2 separate regions of the Homo sapiens genome follow, and region 2 is linked to region 1. The links come from fine-mapping of genetic effects on gene expression. A gene starts in region 1. The other region holds a variant in brackets. All regions are shown on one strand. Distances are between the middles of the regions. Region 1 holds the start of PSMC4 (proteasome 26S subunit, ATPase 4). Region 2 overlaps FCGBP (Fc gamma binding protein).

Evidence for each region.
Region 2: its variant is fine-mapped to the expression of PSMC4 in whole blood (INTERVAL, PIP 0.96).

Annotation. Positions count from the first base shown.
Region 1 is chr19:39,968,171-39,973,547 of GRCh38, reverse strand. It overlaps PSMC4 (proteasome 26S subunit, ATPase 4), which reads right to left and starts at 2,383. Exons shown (of 11, transcript NM_006503.4): 1 at 2,310-2,383; 2 at 1,304-1,402; 3 at 993-1,179. The coding sequence starts at 2,345. LOC124904720 (a long non-coding RNA gene) reads left to right here and starts at 2,577. Exons shown (of 3, transcript XR_007067260.1): 1 at 2,577-2,668; 2 at 3,112-3,194. RefSeq lists enhancers at 1,420-2,099, 2,124-2,513, 3,014-3,063.
Region 2 is chr19:39,928,700-39,934,076 of GRCh38, reverse strand. All of the region lies in intron 1 of FCGBP (Fc gamma binding protein), which reads left to right. Among named protein-coding and RNA genes, the nearest start is that of FCGBP, 3.2 kb to the left of the region's middle. The variant A/CACAA (reference allele first, on the strand shown) is at 3,121.

The DNA.
Region 1 (5,377 bases):
ACAGTGTCACGATCTCGGCTCACTGCAACCTCCACCTCCTGGGTTCAACAGATCCTGTGCCTCAACCACCTGCGTAGCTGGGATGGCAAGTGTGTGCCACCACACCCAGCTAATTTTTATATTTTCAGTAGAGACGGGGTTTTGCCATGTTGCCCAGCCTGGTCTCAAACTTCTGGCCTCAAGTGATCTGCCCACCTGAGTCTCCCAAAGTACTGGGATTATACGTGTGAGGCACCATGCCTGGCCTCAGAGCCCAATCTCTTAACACTCCTACTCATCGTTTCAAACTGCAGGCCCCAAACCAGTAGTAGTTGTGAAATCAATTTGGAAGGTCATGACCAGAACTGTGTTTAAAGCAAAACAGACTAGAATAGGATAGAAAACATCAGCATATACCACACCTAGTAAGGCTAAATATTTCATGGTGAAACTTATGTTTTACACATCTATCTAAAAAGTAAGAGACAGATACAGATAATCACAATGTAAAATACATTTCTGGCCAGGTGCAGTGGGGCTCAGGCCTGTAATCCCAACACTTTCGGAGGGTGAGGCGGGTGGATCGCCTGAGGTCAGGAGTTCAAGACCAGACTGGCCAACATGGTGAAACCCTGTCTCTACTAATAATACAAAAATTAGCCAGACTTGGTGGTCCATGCCTGTAATCCCAGCTACTTGGGAGGCTGAGACAGGAGAATCGTGTGAACCTGGGAGGTGGAGGTTGCAGTGAGCCGAGATCATGCCATTGCACTCCAGCCTGGACAAGAGCAAAACTCTGTCTCAAAACAAAAAACAAACAAACAAAAAAAACATAGATATACATATATATATGTGTATATATATATATATGTATGTATTTCTACCTTTCGATCAGTCAAAATACTCTGAAGAACATTGCACTGCACTGCCCTGCCTTGTTTGCTGCTGCCTAGCACATGGTAGGAAATAGTTGTTAAGTGGACAGATGAATGAATGAGGTGTCCTTAGCACACCTGTGGTAGAGCCCACGATGGCTGTATTCTGATCCACAGCCTCCAGAAATTGTCCGATGACCAGCGGGATGCTTTGGATTCGCTTCACCTCCTCCTGGGCATGGAGAAATTCCTTTTTCAGGTTCTTTTGCTCATCTTTGATGTATTCCTCCTGCACCTCCAGGAACTCCAGCTCTTGCTGCAGCTTCTGCGAGCAGAGAGGGGACAGAAGGGGATGGCTCCAGACTTGCTGATCCAGAGAGTGGTGGAAAGTGGGGAAGAGTATGAGATGTCAGGTCCTGTGCAAGGTCTGGGTTGGGGGTCGAATGTACCTTGTAGCGGCTGTACAGGTCCTCCAGGTCCTCAGGCTCAGGGCCCAGGAAGGACAGGCCGGTCTGGGGCCGGGACACGGACAGTGCTGGGATCTCATCCTAGACGAAAGGGGATAACTCACATTGGAAGAAGACAGTCCTCTCATGAAAGCTTCCCAACTTCACTAATGTTTGTTCCCCTCCCCACTTCACCCTGATGTCACTTAGCCCCTAACAGACCCCTGATATCTTAAGACCCTCTAAATAGATCCTGGAAACCTTTTGGCCACCTAAACAAGCTCTTTATGTCAACTTGCCCCTCAAACAGATCTTATGTTATCATATACCACTCATAACATGTCCCCAGTGTCACACAACCCCCAACTAGGATCTAAACGTCACATCAACTCCTTATCAGACCCAAATGCCACCCAATCCCCTTCAAGAGGTTCCTAATGTCACATGGCTCTCCTAGATAGGCTGTTAAAGTGACTGCGCCTTCAACGAGTCCCAACATTCCCCAGTTTCCCCTCAAAGATCCCTTATGTCACAGTCTCCTAACTCACCTTAGACCTAAATATCACTCAGGCAAGCCACAGATAATACTTAACTACCCGCCCCATTACCCCCATCAGCAAAGCCCTGAACATCAGTCAGCCCCGCAGCCCAGACCCGGGGATCACTCGGCCGCACGGCGGGATCCCATATATCACTCACCGCCTGACCCAATCCCAACGCCGGGCCACCGACCTCACTAAGCACTACCGGCCAGGGTTCGAAATCAATCCGTCTCAAAGACCCACTAACGTCACTCACTCCCCCAGCCCCGCTTTCTGAGCCTTACCTCCTACCATCACTCGGCCACCCAGACAGGCCTTCGAATGGCACAAAGCTCTCCACCGAGGCCTCTAAAATAACCCCAACCTGGGCCGGGGTCCTGGAAGCCATTCCTCCCCCCACTCAGGTCTGGCTTCACCCTCTCCCCGCGAGCCCGGCCCGGACTAAAAAGCCCAAGTCCCCACTGTACCTGAGCCTTCTCCACCAAGATGCCTATCTCCTCCATAGTGACCAAGCCGGCCTCTGTGTGGCCTGGGATGATCTGTCACCGCTTCCGCTGACGACAACGGAAGTCCCTGGCTGAGGAGGCTTCTGGGAAGTGTAGTTTAAGTTACGGCTGAGAGGTGCTGGAAGGGCAGGATAGGACGAAGGGCTGGTCTGGGCTCCGCCCTCAACATAAGCTCATGCGCTGTCCGTACCCGCAGGCGCGAGGGCGGGACGGGAGCTGTGGGCGTGCGCAGTATCACGCGGTGGCGCCATCTCGCCCTGCCGTGGAGGGCTGGGGGTTCTCTCCGGGAGGTGGCGCAGCCCCGTTGCTCTTTCAACGGAGTAAGTTCGCAGAGCTCTGGCACGGACAGTCTGGCGGCCAACTGCTCTTCGCTTTCTAGTGTCTGGGCTGGAGGGTCCTTGAGCTGGGTTCCACAGAAGGGATTGATCGTACGGGCGGGTAAGGTCTCCACGTGGCGCTGATCCAAAGATTGTGCGCCGCGCGGGCGTGGGAAGATCCGAGCTGCCCCTGAAGGTGACATTTCATACTGGGCTTTACCCCGGGATTGAGGAGCCCCGAGCCCGCAGTGAGCAACCAATCGAGTAGAACCCACGCGTCTGGGCTGGGGAAAAGGAGGCAGCGAGTGCCCAGAAGTTGGGTAGCACAGGAGATCCATAGACCTTAGTTCTGTATCCCAGGTTTCCGCCTTACAGATCTATGCCAGGTCCTGCGCTTAAGCTTTACAGGCATCATCGTCGCAAGTATTATGTTTCCTCATTTATAGAGAAGGAGACAAGCTCAGAGCCACGAAGCCACCAGCCACAGTCAACAATGTGCCGAAGGGACAAAGCATAGATTGGGACCCAGGTCTGTCTGTCCCCAAAGCCTGTACTCTTGGCCCCAGGGAAACACTGCTACCCTTCACACCAGCTACAATTTTTGTTAAGTAAACCTTTTATTGAAGTTAAATAAAGAGAAGAGCACAAATCATTACAGCTCGACAAAATTACACAAAGTGAACATGCCCATACAACCTGAATCCAGATCGCAAAACCAAACAGTAGAAGCCTCATGTGCTCCCCTTTCCCCCATCCCTTCTTCTCCCCCCTCCACTCCCCGCCCCGAGACGGAGTCTCACTCTGTTGCCCAGGCTAATATTTGTATTTTTAGTAGAGACAGGGTTTCACCATGTTGGCCAGGCCGGTCACAAACTCCTGACCTCAAGTGATCTGCCTGCCTTGGCCTCCCAAAGTGCTGGGATTATAGGCGTGAGCCACCACATCCGGCCTCCCGATCCCTTCTAAAGGTTATCATTCATCTGTTTTTTTCTTTTTTTTTTAAGAGCTAGAGTCTCTGTCGCCCAGGCTGGAGTGCAGTGGCACGATCATAGCTCACTAGAGTCTCCAACTGCTGGCCTCAAGCTATCCTCTCTCCTCAGCCTCTGAAAGCACTGGGATTACAGGCATGACCCACCCCATGTAGCCTTTAAAAATATATCTTTTGAAAGAGATTCTTGCTCTGTTGCCCAGGCTGGAGTGCAGTGGTGAGATCACTACTCACTCCAGGTTCAACCTCCCAGACTCAAGCAATCCTATACCTCAGCTTCCCAAGCACCTGGAACTACAGGCGTGTGCCACCACGCCTTGCTAATTTTAAAATGTTTTTTGTAGAGATAGGGTTTCGCTGTGTTGCCCAGGCTGGTCACGAACTCCTGGACTCAGATGATCCTCCCACTTCAGCCTTCCAAAGTGCTGGGATTACAGACATGAGCCACTGTGCCTGGCTGGACTCGCCCTGACTTGTAACAGCTGGGTTACTTTTGTTTGTTTTGAATTCTCCTTCTCTCTAGACCAGTACTCTGTGTACTGTGTTTGGTTTCTTTTAGTTAATGTTGTTTTTGTGAGATTCATGCATACCGTGTGTAGAAATAGTTCTTTCATTTTCATTCTGGATGGTTTCCATTTTATGACTATGCCCTATACCTCAGACTGGATATTTTCCAGTTTAGGGGTGTTATAGTGCTATTGTTACTGGGGGTCCTTGTTCTTAGAGCTCCCAAGATGGTGGTGGGCCGCTTCCAAGATGGCAGTAAGTCTCTTGTTCTCTGACCTGGGGTTCTTGGCCTCACGGATTCCAAGGAATGGAATCTTGGGCCATGCGGTGAGTGTTATAGCTCTATTCAGCTCGATTAGGAGGAACCCCGGGCACTTAGCCCGCGCAAGAACAATGGTGAGCCTCTAGCCCAATTGGGAGCGGCAATGGGTGCCGCCTCGCTGGATCAGAAGTGCAGTGGACACCCGGATCCGGAGGGGTGGAAGTCAGCGGCAGGTCTGCCACAGCTGCCATGGCAGCAGACAGCAGCGGTGGACAGTGAGCGAAAGCTCAGCTCAAGCCATAACAAACACAGACCAGAAGAGTGTACAGTTGCAAGGTTTAATAGAGTGAAAACAGAGCTCCCATAAAATGGGAGGAGACCCAAAGGGGATTGCCTTGCGGGCTCCAGTGCTGGGTTATATCCCGCCGATCATTGTCCCTCTCTCTGTGCTCTCAGGCGTTAGATGATTGGCTATTTCTTTACCTTCTGTTTTTGCCTAATTCGCATTTTAGTGAGCTCTCTTTACTACCTGATTGGTTGGGTGTGACCTAAGTGGCAAGCCCCTTGTTTAAAGGTGGATGCGGTCACCTTCCCAGTTGGCTTAGGGATTCTTAGTCGGCCTAGGAAATCCAGCTAGTCCTGTCTCTCACTATGAATATTCTAGTACATTTCTTTGGACAAACTTACGTATTCATTTCTTCTGAAAATAGATCCCCCTCCCAAAGAAAAACAAAAACAAAAACAAAATAGACCCAAGTGTGGAATTGCTGGTCGTAGGGCAGGTATGTGTTTAGCTTTAGTAGACACTGTCAGACTGTATTAATTTACACTCCCACCATTTGTATGTATACTCTTGATATTTTGTGTGTTTGGACATTGTTTTCTATTTGGTGGATGGATCATGGGTTGTCACACGAGACACCACTTGCGCATTCACTTTTGGCCAGGAAAATTC
Region 2 (5,377 bases), 39 kb after region 1:
CCTTCAAAGCCCCCTTTATATGGAAGGTGGTCATTCCATAGCCCCCACACTCTCTTCAAGATTCCTTAGACCTCTCTCTCCTCAGCCCCAGGGACGCTCTTCCTAGTTGGGGGTGGTCAGAAGCCCCCACTGCCATCTATTTCTAGGAGACAATTCATTCACCCTTCCATAATCCCCTTCTTCTCTTTATCCCCTTTTCACAAACCCCCAAGTCCCATTATTATTATTATTATTATTATTATTATTATTATTATTTGAGATGGAGTTTCACTCTTGTTGCCTAGACTGGAGTGCAATGGTGTGATCTCAGCTAATTGCAACCTCCACCTCCTGGGTTCAAGCGATTCTCCTGCCTCAGCCTCCCTAGTAGCTGGGATTACAGGCGCCCCATGCCACCATGTCCGGCTAATTTTGCATTTTTAGTAGAGATGGAATTTCACCACGTTGGTCAGTCTGCTCATGAACTCCCGACCTCAAGTGATCCACCCGCGTTGGCTTCCCAAAGTGCTGGGATTACAGGCAAGAGCCACCGCGCCTGGCCCCCACAAGTCCTATTAAGACAAAAACCAGCTGGGTACAGTTGGTCACGTCTGTAATCCCAGCACTTCGGGAGGCTGATGCAGGAGGATCACTTGAGCCCAGGAGTTCAAGACCAGCTTGGGCAACAAAGTGAGACCCTGCCTCTAGAAAAAAATTAAAAAATGAGCCAGGCACACAGTGCGTGCCTGTGGTCCCAGCTATACCAGAAGCTGAGACAGGAGGATCCCTTGAGCCCAGGAGGTTGAGGCTGCAGTGTGTTGTGTTTAAGCCACTGCACTCCAGTTTGTAAAAAGATGGAAATCATACACTGGCAGCAGAGTACATCCACCTTGAGCCCCAAAGTGCTTAAAACAATTGTGGGTTGGAGATTTCACATGAAAATTCAGATAGCCACATTCTCTTTAAAAACAGAAAGAACGGCCAGGCGTGGTGGCTTACGCCTGTAATCCCAGCACTTTGGGAGACCGAGGCAGGTGGATCACCTGAGGTCAGGAATTTGAGACCAGCCTGGCCAACAGGGTGAAACCCCATCTCTACTAAAAATACAGAAATTAGCTGGGCGTGGAAACCGGGAGGCAGAGGTTGCAGTGACCCAGGATCGCGCCACTGCACTCCAGCCTGGGTAACAGAGTGAGACTCCATTTCAAAAGAAAAAAAAGAAAAAATACAAAAGTTAACTGTGCCTGGTGGCGCACACCTGTAGTCCCAGTACTCGGGAGGCTGAGGTGGTAGAATCACTCGAACCTGAGAGGCAGAGGTTGTGGTGAGCCGAGATCGTGCCACTGCACTCCAGCCTGGGTGACAGAGCGAGACTCCATCTCAGAAGAAAAAAAAAAAGAAAAACAGGAAGGTCTTACAATTTAAAAAAGCTCACATTCTTTCATTATAACAGGTGAAAGCTAGTACCAACAATCCACTTTTTTTTTTTTTACTAGTTTATATATTTTTAAAATTTTTAATTTTTATGGGTTTGCATTTATGGGGTACCTGTGATATTTTGATACAGGCATACAGTGTGTAATGATAAAATCAGGGTAACTAGGGCATCCCTCACTTCAAGCATTTGTCATTTCTTTGTGTTAGGAACATTCCAATTCCACTCTCAGTTATTTTAAAATATACCATAAATTATCGTCAACAATAGTCATCCTGTTCTGCTACCAAATACTAGATTTTATCTATTTTATCTAACTGTTTAACTGTATTTTTGTACCCATTAACCATATCTACTTATCCCCCAGTCCCCGCTACACTTTCCAGCCTGTGGTAATCATCGTAACCATCATTTTACTCTCTATTTCTATGAGTTCATCAGTTAAAAATTTTAAATTCCCATCTATGAGTGAGAACATGTGAAATTTGTCTTTCTATACTGGCTTATTTCACTTAACATCATGTCCTCCAGTTCCATCCATGTTGTTGCAAATGACAGGATCTCATTCCTTTTTTTTTTTTTTTTTTGAGACCGAGTCTCACTCTGTTGCCCAGGCTGGAGTACAGTGGCGCGATCTTGGCTCACTGCAACCTCCGCCTCCCAGGTTCAAGTGATTCTCGTGCCTCAGCCTCCCGAGTAGCTGGGATTACAGGTACATGCCACCATTCCTGGCTAATTTTTGTAGTTTTGGTAGAGACAGGGTTTCACCATGTTGGCCAGGCTCGTCTTGAACTCCTGACCTCAAGTGATCCACCTGCCTTGGCCTCCCAAAGTGCTGGGATTATAGGTGTGAGCCACTGTGCCGGGTGATCTCATTCTTTTTTATGGTGGATAATTCTCCATTGTTTGTATGTACCAAATTTCCTTTATCCACTCATCTGTTGATGGACACTTAGGTTGATTCCGTATCTTGGCTATTAGGAATAGTGCTGCAATAAACATGGGAGAGCAGATGTCTCTTACATATACTGACTTCCTGACTTGGAAGGAAAGGAATTGCTGGATCATACAGTAGTTCTAGTTTTAGTTTTCTGAGAAACCTTCATATTATTATCGATAGTGATTGTACTGATTTACATTCCCACCAACAGGGTAACAGGGTTCCCTTTTCTCCACATGCTCAGCAGCATTCATTACTGCCTTTCATTAGGATAAAAGCCATTTTAACTCGAGTGAGATGATATCTCACTGTGGTTTTAATTTGTGTTTCTCTGATGATTAGTGATGTTGAGCATTTTTTGATATACCTGCTGGCCATGTGTATGTCTTCTTTGAGAAATGTCTATTCAGATCTTTTGCCCATTTTAAAATCAGATTAATCCGGGCGTGGTGGCTCACGTCTCTAATCCCAGCACTTTGGGAGGCCGAGGCAGGCGGATCACTTGAGGTCAGGAGTTCGAGACCAACCTGGCCAGCATGGGGAAACCCTGTCTCTACTAAAAGTACAAAAATTAGCCGAGCATGGTGGCGCATGCCTGTAATCCCAGCTACTTGGAAGGCTGAGGCAAGAGAATCACTTGAACCCAGGAGGCGGAGGTTGCAGTTAGCTGAGATCGTGCCACTGCAGTCCGGCCTGGGGTGACAGAGTAAGACCCCATCTCAAACACACACACATACACACACACACACACACACACACACACACA[A/CACAA]ATCAGATTATTTGATTTTTTTCCTATTGAGTTGTTTGAGCTCCTTTTATATTCTGGTTATTAATCCCTTGTCAGTACCATCTAGAAATGCTACTGATTTTTGTATGTTGATTTTGTATCCTGCAAATTTAGTGAATTTGTTTATCAGTTCTAATAGCTTTTTGATGGCGTCTTTAGGTTTTTTTTAAATATCAGATTATATCATCTGCAAACAAGGATAATTTGACTTCTTTTTTTTTTTTTTCCAGTTTGGATGCCTTTATTTCTTTCTCTTGTCTAATTGCTTTAGCTAAGATGGGTTGTATATATTTTCTCTTATTCTGTCAGTTGTGTCTTCACTTTGTGGATTGTTTCCTTTGCTGAGCAGAAGCTTTTTAGGTTGATGTGATCCCATTTGTCCATTTTTCTTTGGTTGCCTGTGCTTTTGATGTATTACTTAATAAATTTTTGCCCAGACTAATGAACTGGAGAGTTTCCCAAATGTCTTCTTGTAGTAGTTTCGTAGTCTGAGGTCTTAGATTTAAGTCTTTAATCCATTCTGATTTGATTTTTGTATGTGGTGAGAGATAGGGGTCTAGTTTCACTCTTTGCATATGGATATCCAGTTTTCCCAGTACCATTTATCTTCAATAAATGCAATGTATGTTCTTGGGATCTTTGTCAAAAATGAATTCACTGTAGGTGGGTGGATTTGTTTCTGGGTTCTATGTTCTGTTCCACTGGTCCATGTGTTTGTTTTTATGCCAGTACCACACTGTTTTGGTTATTATAGTTTTGTAGTATAATGTGAAGTCAGGTAATGTGATTCCTCCAGTTTTGTTCTTTATGCTCAGGATGGCGTTAGCTATTCTGGGTATTTTGTGTTTCCACACAAATTTTGGGATTAGTCTTCTATTTCTGTGAAGAATGTCACTGGTATTTTTATAGAGATTGCATTGAATCGGTAGATTGCTTTGGTTAGTATGGACATTTTAACAATATTGTGTCTTCCAATCCATGAACATGGAATATCTTTCCATTTTTTTTGGTGTGTGTCCTCCTCCATTTCTTTCATTACTGTTTTATAGTTTTCATTGTAGAGATCTTTCATTTCTTTCGTTTATTCCTAGGTGTTTTATTTTATTTGTGGCTATTGTAAATGGGATTACTTTCCTTTTTTTTTTTCAGATTGTTTGCTGTAAGCATATAGAAATGCTACTGATTTTTGTATGTTGATTTTGTATCCTGCAAGTTTAGTGAATTTGTTTATCAGTTCTAATAGCTTCTTGATGAAGTCTTTAGGTTTTCTGTTTTTTTTGTTTTGTTTTTTGTTTTTTGTTTTTTGAGATGGAGTTTTGCTCTCGTTGCCCAGGCTGGAGTGCAATGGTGCCATCTCAGCTCGGTGCCATCTCAGCTCACTACCATCTCTGCCTCCCAGGTTCAAGCGATTCTCCTGCCTCAACCTCCCGAGTAGCTGGGATTACAGGTGTCTGCCACCATGCCAGGCTAATTATTTTTTTGTATTTTTAATAGAGACAGGTTTTACCACGTTGGTCAGGATGGTCTCAATCTCTTGACCTCTTCATCTGTGCAGCTCAGCCTCCCAAAGTGGTGGGATTACAGGCTTGAGCCACTGCACCCAGCCAAAGTTGTTTTTTTTTTTGAGACAGAGTCTTGCTCTGTCATCCAGGCTGGAGTGTGGTGGTGTGATCTTGGCTCACTGCAACCTCCACCTCCTGGGTTCAAGAGATTCTCTTGCCCCAGCCTCCCGAGTAGCTGGGACTACAGGCATGTGCAACTATACCCAGCTAATGTTTGGTTTTTTTTTAGTAGAGATTGGGTTTCGCCATGTTGGCCAGGCTGGTCTTGAACTCCTGACCTCAGGTGATCCACCCACCTCGGCCTCCTAAAGTGCTGGGATTATAGGCGTGAGCTACCAAGCCCAGCTGTCTTCAGGTTTTTCTAAATATAAGATTATATCATCTGCAAACAAAGATAATTTGAATGCCCTTTTTCCAGTTTGGATGCCCTTTATTTTTTTCTATTGTCTAAGTGGTTTAGCTAGGACTAACAATAATATGTTGAAGAATAGTGGTGAAAGTGGACATCCTTGCTGTGTTCCAGATCTTAGAGCAAAGGCTTTCAGTTTTTCCCCATTCAGTATGATACCAGCTGTGGGTCTGTTGTACATGGATTTCATCATGTTGGGGTGTGTTCCTTCCGTGTCTACTTTCTTGAGAGTTTTTATCACGAAAGGATGTTAAATTTTATCAAATGC